2 separate regions of the Homo sapiens genome follow, and region 1 is linked to region 2. Evidence: fine-mapped expression QTL. Tissue or cell type: blood mononuclear cells. Region 2 holds a variant in brackets; the other region holds the start of a gene. All regions are shown on one strand. Distances are from middle to middle.

Evidence for each region. PIP is the estimated chance that this variant, and not a neighbour inherited with it, causes the effect.
Region 1: it holds the start of ARHGAP29, and the variant in region 2 is fine-mapped to the expression of ARHGAP29 in blood mononuclear cells (TOPMed, PIP 0.97).

Annotation. Positions count from the first base shown.
Region 1 is chr1:94,234,068-94,242,200 of GRCh38, forward strand. ARHGAP29 (Rho GTPase activating protein 29) reads right to left here and starts at 3,517. Exons shown (of 23, transcript NM_004815.4): 1 at 3,348-3,517. RefSeq lists silencers at 3,241-3,480, 3,491-3,720.
Region 2 is chr1:94,103,197-94,111,217 of GRCh38, forward strand. ABCA4 (ATP binding cassette subfamily A member 4) reads right to left here. Exons shown (of 50, transcript NM_000350.3): 4 at 5,381-5,520. Among named protein-coding and RNA genes, the nearest start is that of ABCA4, 14 kb to the right of the region's middle. RefSeq lists enhancers at 3,307-3,808, 3,809-4,308. The variant A/G (reference allele first, on the strand shown) is at 3,123.

The DNA of each region.
Region 1 (8,133 bases), 130 kb after region 2:
CCATCAAACCAGAGTAGAATCTCCTGTGAGATGTTCCATAGTATCCTCTACTTTTCATCACTGCTCATACCACAGTTCAAATAGATCATGTCTTCCTAGCTAGAGTATAATCTCATGGAAATCAAGACCATGTATGTCTATTTGCTAACCATGTGTTCTCTGATCATAGCACAATGCTTGGCGTATGAGGAATGAACTACTTAGAACTATCTGCAGATAGGCTTATAAACTTATAAAGTTTCAATTAATTTTTATAGAAACAAAAATAACTCTGGGTTGTTGCAATGTTTTGAAGTGAAAATATAAATTTTTAAAAAACTCTCTAAAATGGTATGTTTCAAAAAGAAAAGTATATGAAGCTGAGGGAAGATTACATAAAACTGAAATCAAAGTTGGATTTCTATTATTGCTCCTCCTGATTATTAAACTGGGGACCACACTTTATAATTTTTAAAGTTTGTTTATTCACTGTCCTTTTGTCAATCTCAAATTATTTCTGAGAATCTAACTTCTACATTTAAACTAGTTTCAAACCTATCTAACATTAATCCTTATATGCATACATCATTTCTAAAATGAATCTAGGGCAATTTTTGAGCATTATTATTATATCTAAGTCTTCCTTCCCATCAACAAAAACAAAACAAAAATTCAAAGTGTCTTTTTTGGGCAGCTCTTTTACAAATCACTAACCAAAATGCCTATTAGCCTAACCAAACATCACTCTTGCAGTTTACTTAATAACGTCATTCTGTTTAGTTATGACAGCTTTTAAACTTGGTAAATTAGAGAATTGGTCACTGTCACTGGTAAAGATGGTTACAAAAATTAAAGACATTAAAACAATTTACCTATTTTAGCAGAAATAATTTACTTTAAGTAACTACATGTAAAATAGTAACCCAAACTTTCAAAGTGTTTCAAAACTGCTGGAACATTTTTAGACAAGACTTAAAAAATCTGCAAAAAACAAACACAGCAACAACAACATCAAACACATGGCAAGGAGAAGAGGAACTCTTTTCCTCTTATAAAAAAGGATTATACCCTATCTCTAGCCAGCATTATAATGATTAATGTGCTGATTTTGTTATATATTACTACTTTTCATATTCCAGAGTAAAAAAAGGAAACATTACAATTGAAAAAACGTTTAAAATAACAAACTTAACCCAAGCTTTCATAAATGAACTATGATAATGAGAAGCTGGAACAATACACACTTTCCAAGATCATATACACTACTTTCTCATGCGCGAAAATGAATATTCTCTTGTTGGAAGTAACATAAAACTTAGTTACTAACAGACTGCAACTGGCAACTTAATTAGGTAATGACGCATGCAAAGTACTTAGCAGAGTGCCTGGTTCATCATAAAGATGAACCATAAAGAAAAGTCATTATTACTAGCAGTGCTTTATTGTGGGAAATTGTTTTTGAACAAGATGTGGCTTCACTACAATACATAAGTGGATTGTGAGCAAGAAATACAGGACTGGAAACAATTGTAGAAACTTAACTGACTCTGTGGAAACCTACTAAAAAGCTTCCAAGTGAAATTTGAACTGTGCAAATAGACTTGTGCAAAATATTTTTGACACACTAATTCTGGTGCATCTCTTTCAACTTCAAACCAACAATATTAAAAACATGTATTATCCACTTCTCAAAGAATTCTCTAGCAAGTAGAAAATTACCGTGCAAAACCACTTCCATTGTATGTTGTAAATCTAAGTGTTGTGTGCATTAGAAATGTAGACACAAACTTCCTATCCCCCACGACTGCAGGAGCCTGTGTCAATCAAATGTCCGCTGCCCCACGCATGCCCCCTGCCAAATGCACATTACGGCAGTAGTTTCATTTTAGGCTCTCTAATTGAAGTGTAAAACTGCCCCCAAACATCTATACTTACTATTTCCCATTCTACCATTTCTTCTTGAGGAAAAATTGCCAGATATTTCAGAAATCTGCTATTTCAGCACAATTTCAGATTTGGCAAGAATCTACTTTGAGATGCTAAAAAGATTAGATGAGCTCATCCTAAAACGATGATTAAATCTTTATGGTTTTAAAAAGCACTCTCCACAAAAACAGAATAGGGACATGTGAGAAAGAGTTTTATCAATACTATGCAAACAATTTTTAAAGGAAGGCATGCAATACACATGCACTTCATTTCTGTACAGTTTGAACCTAGCACGCTTTAAAAAGAGGAAGCTGCCCAGCATCCCACCCCTCCAGAATGTCTAGCATTCCTGGCAGGCAGTACTCTCCTTTGACCAGCCAAAACTACTCTTTGCCAAAGAGCAAGTTCCTCATCCAAGAATTTAAACAAAGAGGGAAGAATGGAGCAACCAAAATGGACAGCCGACGGTGGTAACGACGGACAAAAGATAAACTATAGACAAGAGATACAGTCACAGAGACAGATGGAGAGAAGGGAAGGAGAGCTCAGCTCCTGCCATTAGCAGGTAATATCCTGCCCTCCGAAAACATTTGGGGCCAATACCCTCTGAGAAAGTTTTAAAAAGATAAACATAGAGACAAGAGGCTCGTCAGTCACGAGGGTTCCACCTTGAAACGTCCAACTCCAGCTCACCCGCCCCCCAAAAAATTTTTTTTTTTAATTAAAACTGTCAAACCCCAAAACACGTCCACAATTGAACTGGGACAAACCTCTGAGACTGAGGAAAACTCTCAACGAAACCCAAAAAACACAGACCAGGAGAAAATGCACCACGGAAATCCTAAAATATCTCAGGAATGAGAGCCCAACTGGAGTGAGGGCTGCAGTCAGGGCAGGTGGGAGCGGGAATAGAATCCAGGCAAGAACACAGACCCATAGTGATCAGGAGCACGGATTCCGGAGCAAAAGCGCCTGGGTTTAGGTCCTGACGCTGCCAACCACTAGTCTGTGTGCTTGGGCAGGTTTTTAACCTCGGTTTCCCCGTGTGAACCGAGTCGAACAATCATGGAGTGTTCTGAACATTAAAAGAGTTAAAATGTGCAAAGGCTTCAGAACAGCAGGCGGACCCGTTGTACGCGCTGTGTGCTAACTTTAATTACGATCGTCACCGTCTGCTCCCGGCCACCGCTGGCGTCCTCCCCAGCTCGTCCGCGCCTCCCTCGCCGGGCGCGCCCCTAGCCCCGGCCGGACCCTTCCCGTGGACTCCAGTCCTGGCTCGAGGACACCCGTCCCTAGCGCAGCCTGCCACCGCTTCCACTCGGGGCCGCCCCGCGGGCCTCCCGGACCCTGGACGGCAATTCGCGGGCGCTCGCGCGGGCAACCCCAGCCCGGAGCCACGACCGCCGCGGCCGGAGCAAGCGCCACCTCCTCACACTCACCACGGCGCTCCATCTCGCGTGCCGGACGCGGACGCCCGCCCCACACCTACGGCCGCCGCCACCGCCGAGGGCTGGAGCTCGCTGCCCCCATCCCCCACGGCCTGCGGACGCCCGGCCAAATCTCAGCCGCAGCCGCAGCCGCAGCCACAGCCACAGGCACCACCACCACTGCAGCCGCCACCGCCCCTGCAGCTACCGCCACGGCCGCACCGCCCGCCCGCCAGCCCCGCCCCCTGGAGCCCAGCCCATTGGCCCGCGCTCCCGGGGGCGGGGCCGGCGACCGCGGCAGGTACGGGAGGCAACTAGCTCGCGCGCAGAACGCGACCGTCAGTTGCGCGCGGCCGGACGCTGTCCCAGCATCACGGGCTGCGTCGGCTGCCCTTTTGGCTTGCAGGGGACAGGCAGAGCGACTCAGAGAAAAGTCACCTGAGGACTAGATGCGGCTAATGGCCAGATGAGCAGCTACATTTCTTATGAGACACTTCTGTGGATCGCCTTTTTCCTCCCTCTTCCAGGGGTTAGGGCCTGGGGAAGGGCGCCACACGTCTGAATGAAGAATGAACTACCTCAAAACCAGCCATCTACTCTGCCCCTCTGCCCTCTATGGAGGGTAATAGTTTCCACTTAGGCCTATCTGTATTTTTTTTTTTTTTTTTTTTTTTTTTGGAGACGGAGTCTCGCTCTGTCGCCCAGACGAGTCTAATGGCGTGATCTCGGCTCACTGCAACCTCCGCCTCCCGGGCTCAATTGATTCTCCCACCTCAGCCACCTGAGTAGCTGCGATTATAGGCACCCATTACCACGCCAAGCTAATTTTAGTATTTTTAGTAGAGGCAGGGTTTCGCTATGTTGGCCAAGCTGGTCTCGAATTCCCGACCTCCCGACCTCAGGTGATCCACCCGCCTCAGCCTCCCAAAGTACTGGGATTACAAGCATGAGCCACTGTGCCCGGTCCTTTCTTTCTTAGCTGCACTTTCAAACTCACTTCATAATGAGAAGAAAAAAAAAAGTCTGAGAAAGATGGAATAATTATAGCAAGCAGGGCTAGAAAGCACATAGTCCCTATATCACACCACTCGCTGGAACAAGCGATGGCACTTACCTCAGTGCTGGAACATTCAGAAAGAACTCATAGAGAAACAGAGGAAAAAACACAGGGAGGGAGACTGTGGGTAGCGCTGGGGTCTGCGAGAAAAATGACCACACACGGGAGAAACAGAAAAAGACACAGGAGAATGTGCTGAGGAAAACTGGAAAGAAAATGAGGTGCAGACACAGGAAAAGGGAAGAAAACCAAGGAAGGCAGAAATAAGTGAAGGCAAAAAGAGAAAATAAGGAAGAAAAATAAAAGGAGAGACTACCCACTTAACAAACAGAAAAGTAAGTGAGCATGACAGAACCAAAAGTAGGGTAGCGGGGCAAGAGAAAAACTCATTGACAAAGAAAGAGAAGAGGGACATCTTACATAGACATATCTTTGAACCCTTACAGGAAAAACAATGCTAAGAAAATACAACAAATTTGGCTCCTCAGGTGCTACTTAGAAAAGATAAATAAGAAAACTCAGCTCCTTGGTTACTTTGGCACCATACTGGATTTTTTGGACTCAACTTACACAGATTTTCCCCTCAAATCCCCAAAATAATAGTAACAAGGTCCTGCCACAAATAGGAAACCTCAAAAACCAAAATTCCTTCTAATCGTGCTGAAAAAGAAAAATGCGCCAAGGACTCTCACCATGGAAGCCAATGATGCCTGAACTGAAGCAAACTAATAAGAGGAGACAAAGGAGTCCCCAGGCCAAGGGGAGGCTGAACAGTGCAACTACGATTCAATCATAAGTAAGGTTTTTGGAAGGAAATTTTTGAGGAAGTCCCTCAACCTCAAACACCCTCTTAAGTCTATTTTAAAATATATTATTTTGCACTTATACACCATTTCCCTTAATAAAGAGGACTGTGTTGCTGACTAAAATGGAACTGGAAGCATCACTGACAAAATCATGAACAAGTTCCTGATGGAGAGAGAGGGTGTATGGATGGAGGTGGGGGTGTGACAAAGAGAAAGGAGCTCACAAGGAGGAGAGAAAAGCAGGGAAAGAGAGACAAAGGGAGAGACAAATATGTGAGAAGGAAAGAGAGACAACAATAAAGGAGAAAGAAAGACAAGAGGGAAAGAAGAAAGAAATATGCAGAGATAAGGGGAAGCAGAGAAAGAAAATGAGATGGAGAGAGATAAGGAAGATAAAAGAGACAAACAGAGGTGATAGAGACTACCCACCGATAGAGAAAGGAAAGAGGGTCATTTCTCACATGCAAACAGTTCTGGGGGAAATGAAGCCAATTAGGCTCTGAGGTTTTACCTTAAAAATACAAACATAAGAATCCAAGGCTCCTTGATTACCTGCTTCCACAATTATTTTTCAGACTTAATTTTTAAAATTTTTTCCATTACACCTCAAACCTAACAGTACTAATATGACAAGCAGTACTGAAGACACCTAAAAAACAAAGACTCCTTCAAACCCCACTGGAGAATGATGCACCATGGACACTCACCCAGTGATGACTCAAAACTGAAGGACATCAGTGGGGGATGAAGAAAGAATTCTGAAGGCCAAGGAGAGTGGGGTTGGACAACTCTCAGGGAGCTCAAGGAAGCAAAGTCTGTCCCTCATAGCTGCTCTGGGTTATTCTCAACACCCCCTAAACCAGAACTACCCCTAAACCATCCCAAAACAACCAACTACTGTGCATAGGATCTGACACAGAGTCACAATAGTTGGCTATTTGGGAATCGAGGAATGTTACTTAGAAGGTTAAATAAACTATAAGTAAGGTTGTCTAAGGGAAATTTTGAGAAGTCTCTCAATCTCAATCCTCCTCTTAAACCTTTAAAAAAATACATTATCTGCCATCCTTCATCCAGAGGATGATGACATTTGGAAATATTTGCAAAAATGGTAGTTTACTTTTAATTTAAAAGGGTTATTTTATTAATCTCCCCTGACTTGATTTTGTTTGAAGTAATTTATCACACAAATACACTTTAAATATGAAAAGCACATTAATAGATGCAATAATACCTTTCTGCAAGTCCGAAATTCTTGGTCTATAATAAAATTGTAGTGTTCAGAAAAAAAGAGTAAAACCATCAGTATATCTACCATAGCAGTCCAATAGCTTAAGTTTTTCAACAAGTTGCAGAAAAACATTTCTGGAAGCAACATATAATTTTTTTTAAATACTTGTGTTTTTACCATTTATATTACTATTGCCTCTAGTATTTTTTCCTTCTCAAACAGAAATTCACATCCTCTATGACACTGTTCAAGTCAGCCATTCGGTGCAGCCTTAACTTTTATATTCCCCAAATCTTCCTCATGTGTTCTCTTCAAAATGTTTGTGGTACCAGACTGCACAGATTAGTATTCTTTCTATCTGCAGTGGTGACATTACCAGTACTGTTAATTTTACTTCATCTTCCTGAAGACAATTCTGTAGTTTAGGTAGCCTACTTTTCATAGCAGAACATGGGTCTAAAAACATTTGACAATATCTGGAGACATTTTTTGTTGTCATAACTGGGGAGGGGGATTCTACTGACATCTAGTGGGCAGAGGACAGGGATACTGCTAAACTTCCTACATGCATAGGACTACCCTCATCCCCAAGAAAGAATTATCCTGCCCAAAAGGTCAATAGTGTCAAGGTGAAACACCCTGTTCTATATCCAATTACCACTTTATAAAAAACTATAAGACCTAAGAACTTGTTAAATTATGCCACAGTATATACCCAGAAAAATCTGGACTGTGGGCCATTTTATAGCATAAACGTGATTTCTTCAACAAATAAACTGCAGGAAAAAAGATGGAAAGAAAAATCTCTAGATTATCCTTAAAAGATATATCAAATGCAGCCAGGTGCGGTGGCTCACGCCTGTAATCCCAGCACGTTGGGAGGCCGAGGCGGGCGGATCACCTGAGGTCAGGAGTTTGAGACCAGCTTGGCTAATATGGTGAAACCCCATTTCTACTAAAAATACAAAAAATTAGCCGGGCGTGGTGGCGTGCACATGTAATCCCAGCTACTCGGGAGGCTAAGGCAGTAGAATCGCTTGAACCTGGGAGGTAGAGGTTGCAGTGAGCCAAGATCACACCACTGCACTCCAGCTTGGGCAACAAGAGCAAAACTCCGTCTCAAAAAATAGTAATTTTATATATAATTATATATATATCTTATATATATAATTATATATGATATATATAATTTATATATGTAATTATATATGATATATAATTTATATATAATATATATTTATATATATATATATAAAATCAAATGGAGGAATAAATAAAAACAGACATACTCTTCCCTGTAGTAAACAACTAGAAAAATGGACAAAATATATATTGTTTTCAGACACCGAACTACACACCGCACTGGGCTCAGGGCTGTCATCTCTGAGAGATGGGATCATAAACAAATGAGGTAAGCCCCACAATTACCCCAACTTTCTGCCTAAAGTCACATTCTTGACCATAGCACCCTTGACAACTTGAAGAGACAGAGATCATGGTTCCAGGAGATTGGAGTTGCCAGAATCTGTAGGACAGAGTACCAGAGACTAAGGATGTAGAAAAAGAAAGAGCTCCAGAAATTTGCATAGGGAATTTCTTAATTATCTTGCTGAACACCAAGATGCACATGTATACAGCAAAACACAACAAGGATTGGCAAATAATTTCCAGAAAGCTATAGATGGACGATTCCCAGGTTTCCCA
Region 2 (8,021 bases):
AGGAAAACAGCCAGAGTCGATTGGAAACACTTGTAACTCAACTCTCAGAGGAAGGTTCTGTTCTTGGGGTCTCTGGGAGCCCCTAGAGGTGAGGCTCTTGCCAGTGGGCTGCCCCCAACACATTGACTGCTGAAGCAGCTGGGCCCAATTTAGTAAGAAGGTGGAAAAAGTTAGCCAGGGCTGGATGGGGGTGTCAGATGCTTTGTGGGGTTGGTCTAGGACAGTGCTTCTCATTGAGGTGGGGCTGGGGAACTGAAACAGGGGAATTTCATCCTCCTGGAAATATTTGGCAAGATCTAAAGACATTTCTGGGTGTCACAACTGGGGAGGTGCTGGTGGGTAGAGGCCAGAGATGCTGCTAAACATCCTGCAAGGCCCAAGACACTCCTCCCTCCCCCACACAAAGGATTATCTAGCCCCAAGTGTCAGTGATGCTGAGGCTGAGAAACTCTGGTCTAGGATTGGAGGAGACACGTGCTCTTCCCACACCGCAGCTGTCACAGGGTAGAGGACCCCTCTGGGTGTTTCTATCATCTCAGCTTGGGCTGAGATGCTCAGGGCACTGACATGGACTAAGAGAAATGAGTTGGGGCCATTAAGGGCAGGAAAAGCTCCAGGTAGAAAGAGGAGAGCCAGGCACATGCCGGGGCTTGCCTGATGAGCCCTAGTCAAGCTCCCTCCAGCTCCTCTCAACACCTGTGGGAAGCAGGGTTTCTTTATAAGGAGGCATAAAGAACACCTAACAGTTAAGGTGACCTTGGGGCAAGTGATTGAGCCTGTCCCCGTGTCTGCATTTTCCACATCTACCTCATAGGATTGTTGATGCGGGGTAAGGAATGTGAAGTGCTTAGCTCCCAGGCCTCAAAACAGCACTCAATAAATGCTTATTATGATCGAATTAATATAATTCTTACCCCTCCTGGGAGATTCACACAAGCACCCTCCTCCTCGGCTGGCTTCCAGGGCCAATGCTTGGCCTCAACCCTGCTAGTGCTATAGTTCATGAGGCTCTGGCCAGAGAAGAGCCTTATGGGCCTGGATGTCTACGAAGGGACTTCAACACAAAGGGAAAGCACTGGGGTGCGTGAAAATGCCAATCTCTTCACCCCGAGTGCTTCAGGGGCATGGGTGACTGTTTATCTCCCAGTTCTTCTCTAACTAGCTTTAACCATCACATGTCCCCATTCTTTCCTGGTCCCAATTCCACGGCATCCCATCCTCTTCCTCTCCAAATTCTCCCCTCCCCCAGTGGCCAAGAGGCCTGCCCCTGTGTGCTGGACAGCCACCCTTCTCATCCCCAGGTTGTGCCTTTCCCTGAACAGCACCATATCCGGATTTATGTTGCAGCTAGTTTCCTCTGGAAGGGTCTTGCGCCAACCCCACAGGCCTGTCCATGCAGCTGGGGCAGGGGAAGCCGGTCTTGAAGTTCGACCACACAGTGGCACAGTGGCTTCTCTCACAGTAATGGGTTCCCTGAGAGTGGTGCCCACTGTCACTCCCCTTTGCATAGGAAAGATCCAAGGACTTTGGGGAAAGCTGGACACAGGGCCCGAAGGGAGGAGGAGGGCTCTGAGAAGGGCTGCTCCCTTATATTCTAGTCTTCCCTCTTCAAAAACATAAATCCGGCTGTCTTCCAAACCCAGCCCTCCTGCTTTTCCTCCTGTCCCTGGGTGCCAGCTCCATTGTTCTTTTCCCAATTACCCCTTCATACACAGCCTTGTACACTCTCACTCCACCAACACCATCCCCAACACACGCACACACACACGCATGCACACACATGCACACACACATGCACACATGCGCACACATGCACACGCACGCATATGCAGACATACACACATGGGAGATCTCTTGAGAGTTGGGGGCTATGGCTCCTGCTTTTATTATACTCCTCATTGTACCTAGCAATGCTGGGTGCACAGATGCAAGCCCTTGAAGTCACCTCTCTCTGACACCCAGCATTAAAGACTGACATCCAATCAGAGTCTCAATAAATGTCTGTTGAATGACATGAGGCATTCAGTAAATAACTGTTGTCTTGACCTGACAGTCAGGACTCCATTTGACTGTTTATCTCTTCGTTATTCTTTAACTCACTCACCTGACCTTACATACAAATATCTTGCTGGGGAGAAGGGGCAAAACAAGAAAAGCTGGGAGTGATGTTGCCCAGGCTTGGCACACAAGACCACCCAGGAGACAGGGCTGCTGTGGCTCTGGGGGGGAAGGGGGAGTGTGCTGGCTTCTGGTACACCTGAGGAGGGCGGGGGCCCAGGTGAAGAGGAGGCCGATACCAGACAGAAGCTTCCCTAGACTCCTGAGGGAGAAATGTGAACTGGGAGCCTGAGGAAAGAAAAATAAATTTCGTTTAAAATGTGGTTCTTCTTGTTCCCTTCCCTGGGAAGATTAGAGGCTTGGGGGTGGGGCTGCTGAGGCCCCAGGAGCTGAGGGTGGGGGTGGGAGGGAAGCCAGGAGAATGTAGGAGGCTCCCGGGAAGAAGGTGTTTTAAAGATGATTGAGAGACCACAGAGCTTGCTTCGAGGGAGAGGGAAGGGGGCTCCATGCCTGGTCTTTTACCATTAATCCTCCCTGCTGAGAATGCAGTACTGCAGGTTTGCCATGAAAGAAAACCTCTGCCTGGGTCAACCAGCGGCATACCTTCCCAGGTGGCTGTGCAGAAGCACGCACCAGCACCAGCCCCGCCACCCCCACCCGCTCGCTTTCAAAGGTGGGCTCTTCTGCCACATTGGCCTGAGGAGTCCGTGCTCACAGTGAGCAGCGCCCCGGTGAATCTCAACAGACTGAAACAGCCTGTGTTCCTGACAGTGCCCTTCAGGCCCTGGCCTGGGATTTCCTCAAAGACCGTGTCCCTTACTTGGGGATGGACCCCTGTTCCCTCTCACAGCCTCTAAGGCCAGGGATCTTGCAGAGCCCCCATTCCTAGGGGGCCGTGGCCAACCTTTCCTGAGCCCTTGTCCCCAGATTTGCTCTGTTAGGGACTTCTCACAGCCCGAAGCCTGCAGAAGGAACCGCCTGCATACCAATTCAAAATCAGTCCTGCTCTGGGGTTAAGAAGTAGTGATTTTGGTTCTCATATCCACATTGTAAAAGCCACAGAG[A/G]AACTGTGGTTTGAAATTACTTCCTTCACACTTCCTCCCAGCAGGACTCAATCTGATGATCAGGCACTTAAGTGAAATGTCTGCCTCATCATCAAACCCACTGGATGCATGAGGTATGTCATCCCGCCAGGAGCTGGACAGCCCACGTCTGCATCTGTTTGTTTAAATTAGGAAAAAAACACCTTCTGGTTGGTACACAGGGGAAGGGGGATTTCTTACTATTAAAATGGTAATTGTACTCATACCATATAAGGTTCCTCAAACTTGGGCTCACTAAAATAAACTTCTACCCAGGGCAACAAAGAATGGAGTGTTTGTAATGCAGTTTGTAGAAGTTACTACATAAAATCTATGGTTTACTAGTTTGAAACAATGAGAACGTAATTCAGCATCTTCATACACCAATCTGGTCATACGCCTGTCCTTTCTCACTTGGATGGGGAGAGAGGGCTTCAGAAGGTGGCCAGATGGGAGGAGGATCAGATTCTCCTCGGAGAAGTTTCCCCTGTTGACTCTCCTGTGCTCCTGAATCCCCTCCTTCCCTCCACTGGGCCCCACACGCGCTGTGGTCATTTTCTGCTCACTCATCTCTCACCTTCTGCCCTGTGAGCCCTCTGAGGGCTGGCATTTGCCTGACTCATCTCTCCACCCCCAGAGACTAGCCCAGTGCCTGGCTCACAGGAGGCACTGAAGGTCGACTGAATGTTGAAGGAGCTGCACGCATGCACGGGAAGGTGCCCCCGGGGCTGATTTCAACCATTCTCCCACATTTCTTGTTTGGAACCTGCAGCAGAAGCTGTTCTATCAATACAGCCTCTCCCATTCCCCTGGTAGACCCCTTGGTGACCCCTTTCTCATCCCTGTTAACCTCTAAGGTCATCCTTAGAGTCAACTCCCTAATCCTAGGAGCACACATCTCCCAGAAGCCCCTAACAGCTGCTTTCGTGGCCTCTGAGCCCCGTTTCCTGGGCAATCTCCCCCAGAGCAGCCTTTCCTCAGAGGGCACGCTCCACACCCAAAGCTGCAGCAACCCCTGGATTTTGGGGGGCTTTACTTCCTCACGACCACTCTTTTCCTCTGCTCTTGCAAGTGGGATCCAGTGGCCATGTCCAGTCCCTCTAGCCATCCACAGAGGAGCCTACTACACACGTGACAGCACACAACACCCACTCACACTTTGTAAAGGCACATTGGTGTTATTACTTTCGGATTGTTTCTTGTTCTTCTCCTGGGGAGGAGAGACACAGGAGAGGGAGCCTCTTCATCCTTTCTCTTCACTCTTCCTGACTCCAGGTGGCTCCCACCCTGGTGCCCAGCTCCTGCCATCTTCCTGCACAACCGTGGTGTCCGTGTGGGGCCAACATCATCACCTCCCATTTCCTCCTTCCCCTCACCATGCACCTGCACCTTTGCCCCACTTCACCATGGCCGCATCTGGGGGCCAGTCATCACCCACCCTACCTTCGAAATCCTGAATTCACATATTTCACTTTCTGACCACAGCCATTAACCTTTTCATCTTGTTCATTTTCTCAATCACTTAAACAGGGTCATGGCACCCACTGAGACTTCTATTCCCTTGCCTCTTCATTTCCCCCAGTCCATTTCCGTGCTCATCTGCCTTCTCATCCTTCCTCGTGCAGCCTGGACTTGATGCATGTAGTCCAGTCCCTGCCTTCAGCCCGCTGCCTGTTGACCTTCTGTGGTGCCTCCATACACACCCCCAGCCCTGCATCACCCACTCTCCACTTGCTCTGCCTCGGGGCCTGGGTGCTAAATATTACTGGGAGAAATAGTACAATTATGCATATTTATGTCATGATAATACATGATCTCTGACCTCCCTGGCTCCTTAATGATAGTTGGCCTTGCTGCTTCATGTTCCTGGTTAGCTCTCGCTCTAGAACTCTGTGAGAGTTGCTCTATATCTTTACGAAACTCTGTAAACTCGTCTCCCCTGCTTCTAGCCCTTGACCTAGCCTCATACTTCCCATAGTGCCATCTCTCTTAGCATTCTTTCTGTCTCTAGACTTAACGTGGATGAGACCTTTCCTGCCTTCCTTCCCAACTTCCTACCTTCCAGGCTTCTGTGGAGGAAGAGGCATCTTCACCAAGGTGATGTTCAAGCCGCCTCCAGACCCCATCCCTTCCTGCCTCCGCTAGTATATTTTTCACCAACTCTCCCTGTTCTTTCCTATATCTTCAGTCTCTCCATAGGTGAGGGAAATGATGCTTGAGAGCACTGCAGTCATGCTTACCTGCAATTCTCTCCGGGTGAGTCCGGAGGGTGTCCATGAATTGGGACAAGATGTGTAGCTCTGTCCAAATACGGCCAAGGTGCTGGCTCTCTGGTGCATTCATGAGGAGTTCTTGAAAATCTCGATATACCCTTGCCAAGCTGTAAGGACAAAGCCTCATTAATAAGGAAATAGCTGTTATTTTTATAACAGTAATAATATCTCATGCTATTTTTTTTTTTTATCTCGCTCTGTCACCCAGGCTGGAGTGCAGTGGCGTGATCTCGGCTCACTGCAAGCTCTGCCCCCCGGGTTCACGCTATTCTCCTGCCTCAGCCTCCCGAGTAGCTGGGACTACAGGCGCCCGCCACCACACCCAGCTAATTTTTTATATTTTTAGTAGAGACGGGGCTTCATCGTGTTAGCCAGGATGGTCTCGATCTCCTGACCTCGTGATCCACCCGCCTCAGCCTCCCAAAGTGCTGGGATTACAGGCATGAGCCACCGTGCTTGGCCATCTCATGCTATATTTAAAGATACTATGTGTCTGGCCTAGCTACTACATTGAGTATCCTTACAATACTGCCAAGGCAGGAGAAAGAGATAATTTTACTTCCTTGTACATATAGGCTAACTGACAAGGATGGTGAGCGATCTATTCAGTCTCCCAGTTTTGGCAGGGTCTGCTCGCCTCTCGGTCCCATGCTCTGTGTGTCTCTTGCCCAGAGAAGCCTTAAACAGGGTGACATTGGTGGATATCACTGGAGGGTTTATCCAGTTTTTACCCAATTCTCTGAGACCTGCCCTTCCACCCATTCACGCAGGTAGGCTCTGACAGCCATGCTTCATCCACAAGGACCTCCCTGCACACACACATTGGCACGCATGCACATGCACGCCTCTGCCAAGGCTGATGGGACAGGGAGAATAAAGCTGGGTCAACCCGATTTGTTCCCAGGAATTTGGATGGTGTTCAGAGATGAGCTTCTGATTGCCCAGGCCGAGGTATTGTGAATTGCATGAACAATGGCAGCCCAGGCATTGAGGAGCAGGGGAGACTGGTCCATGGAGAGAGGTGAATGGAGTAGATACAGAGGCCAGGGCTGGCAGGCCCAGATGGAAGAGAGTTGAGGAAGCAGCTCCTGACAGCTCTCCAGGTCTTGGCCTGCCTCTCCTGAGCCCCGCCTTGCTGCCCTTGGCTCTGTGAGAATGTCTAGTATCCAAATCATAGATTTCCTTCTGGGGTTTAAGATTGCTTGAATGGGTTTCCGTGCCTTGCAAGCAAAAGAACCTTGAATAAGCCAATATTTCACTCATAATGTGAGTGCAAAACATGAAACCCAACTTTCCGGGTTCAAATGCCAAGTACAGCTAGAGTCTGGAGCCCCCTTCTCCAACTCCCACCCCTCAGTTTTCCGCAATAACATCTATAGACACTGCCAGGGCCGTTCCCACCAAAGCTCCATGCAGCCTCCACTGAGCTGTCTTCAGGCCTCCCTGATCCCACCATGTGACCCCACACGATCTCTCTGGATGGGCAGGTGTTTCTTAAGCTGAAAGTGCAGTTGTAAACTAAAACTGCAAGGCAGTGCTTGCAGCAATATGAGTCCTGCTAAATGCCACTTCCTTGACTTTGCTAGGAAGACAGATGTTTCCTCTTCTATCATCTGGTAATCCAGGGGTCAGCAAACATAAAAATTACAGGCTTACAGATCATACAGTCTCTATCACAACTACTCAACTCTGCCATTGTAGGGCACATGCAGCCATAGTTTGTTCACAGTGGGGAAGGCCACCTCCAATCATTAGGTTGACCTATCAAACTTTTTTTCTTTTTAGTCTAAAAGCAGGCTTCTCCTGGAAGAATCATACTGAGCTCCCCCAAGGAAAAAACTAAAGTAACCAGGTATCTCAGTTTTCACCTAGCCTGGTGTTTATACAGGTCGGGTAAAGCCTGCTCCCCAACAGGCCTTTGCTGGTGGCCTTCAGGTATGGGCTGCACAAGGTGCTGCTTAAGGTCAGCACAGTGGGTGAGGGATGGCCCTGTCCACACCCTAAGCCTCTGTCTCTAGAATATGCTCCCATGATGTTCTCCCAATGCTCTGAAAGGGAATTCCGAAGGCAGACCCTCTTCCTGTGGGATTCGACTTGAATTTTGACCCTAGACCTGAGGCTACTAACCTGGCATCTACAATTCCCTGAAATCAGATGTACAGTGTAATGTTTGGTATGTGGCCATTTTTCTTGGAAGAGGGGTCATTGGTTTTCATCAGCTTTTCAGAATAGCCTGCAGGCCCACAGTGAAGAGCCACTGCACCCGAGCCATATTCCGAGATCTCACCACTCCAGGGGGCCGATGGCAATTATAACAGAGGATTTGGAAATTGTATTTTTCTCCCAAGAAGTAAACTTGACTTTGTAAACCTGACTTCATTTACCTTCCCAATGCTCCCTGACATTTTTCCTAGCCCTTAGATGTCCAAGAAAGCTTTTAAAGGAAGAGAGATCTGTCCAGGTTGATCAGGGTGAGGGAACTGAGTTTTTCTCCTACAATGATTCACTCCACCCAAGCAGGTCAATGACCAGAAGGCAGTGGACACATCTCTGCAGCGGGCTGCCATCAGACTCCAGGTCACATTCTGGGGATATAAGGACCAAGAAA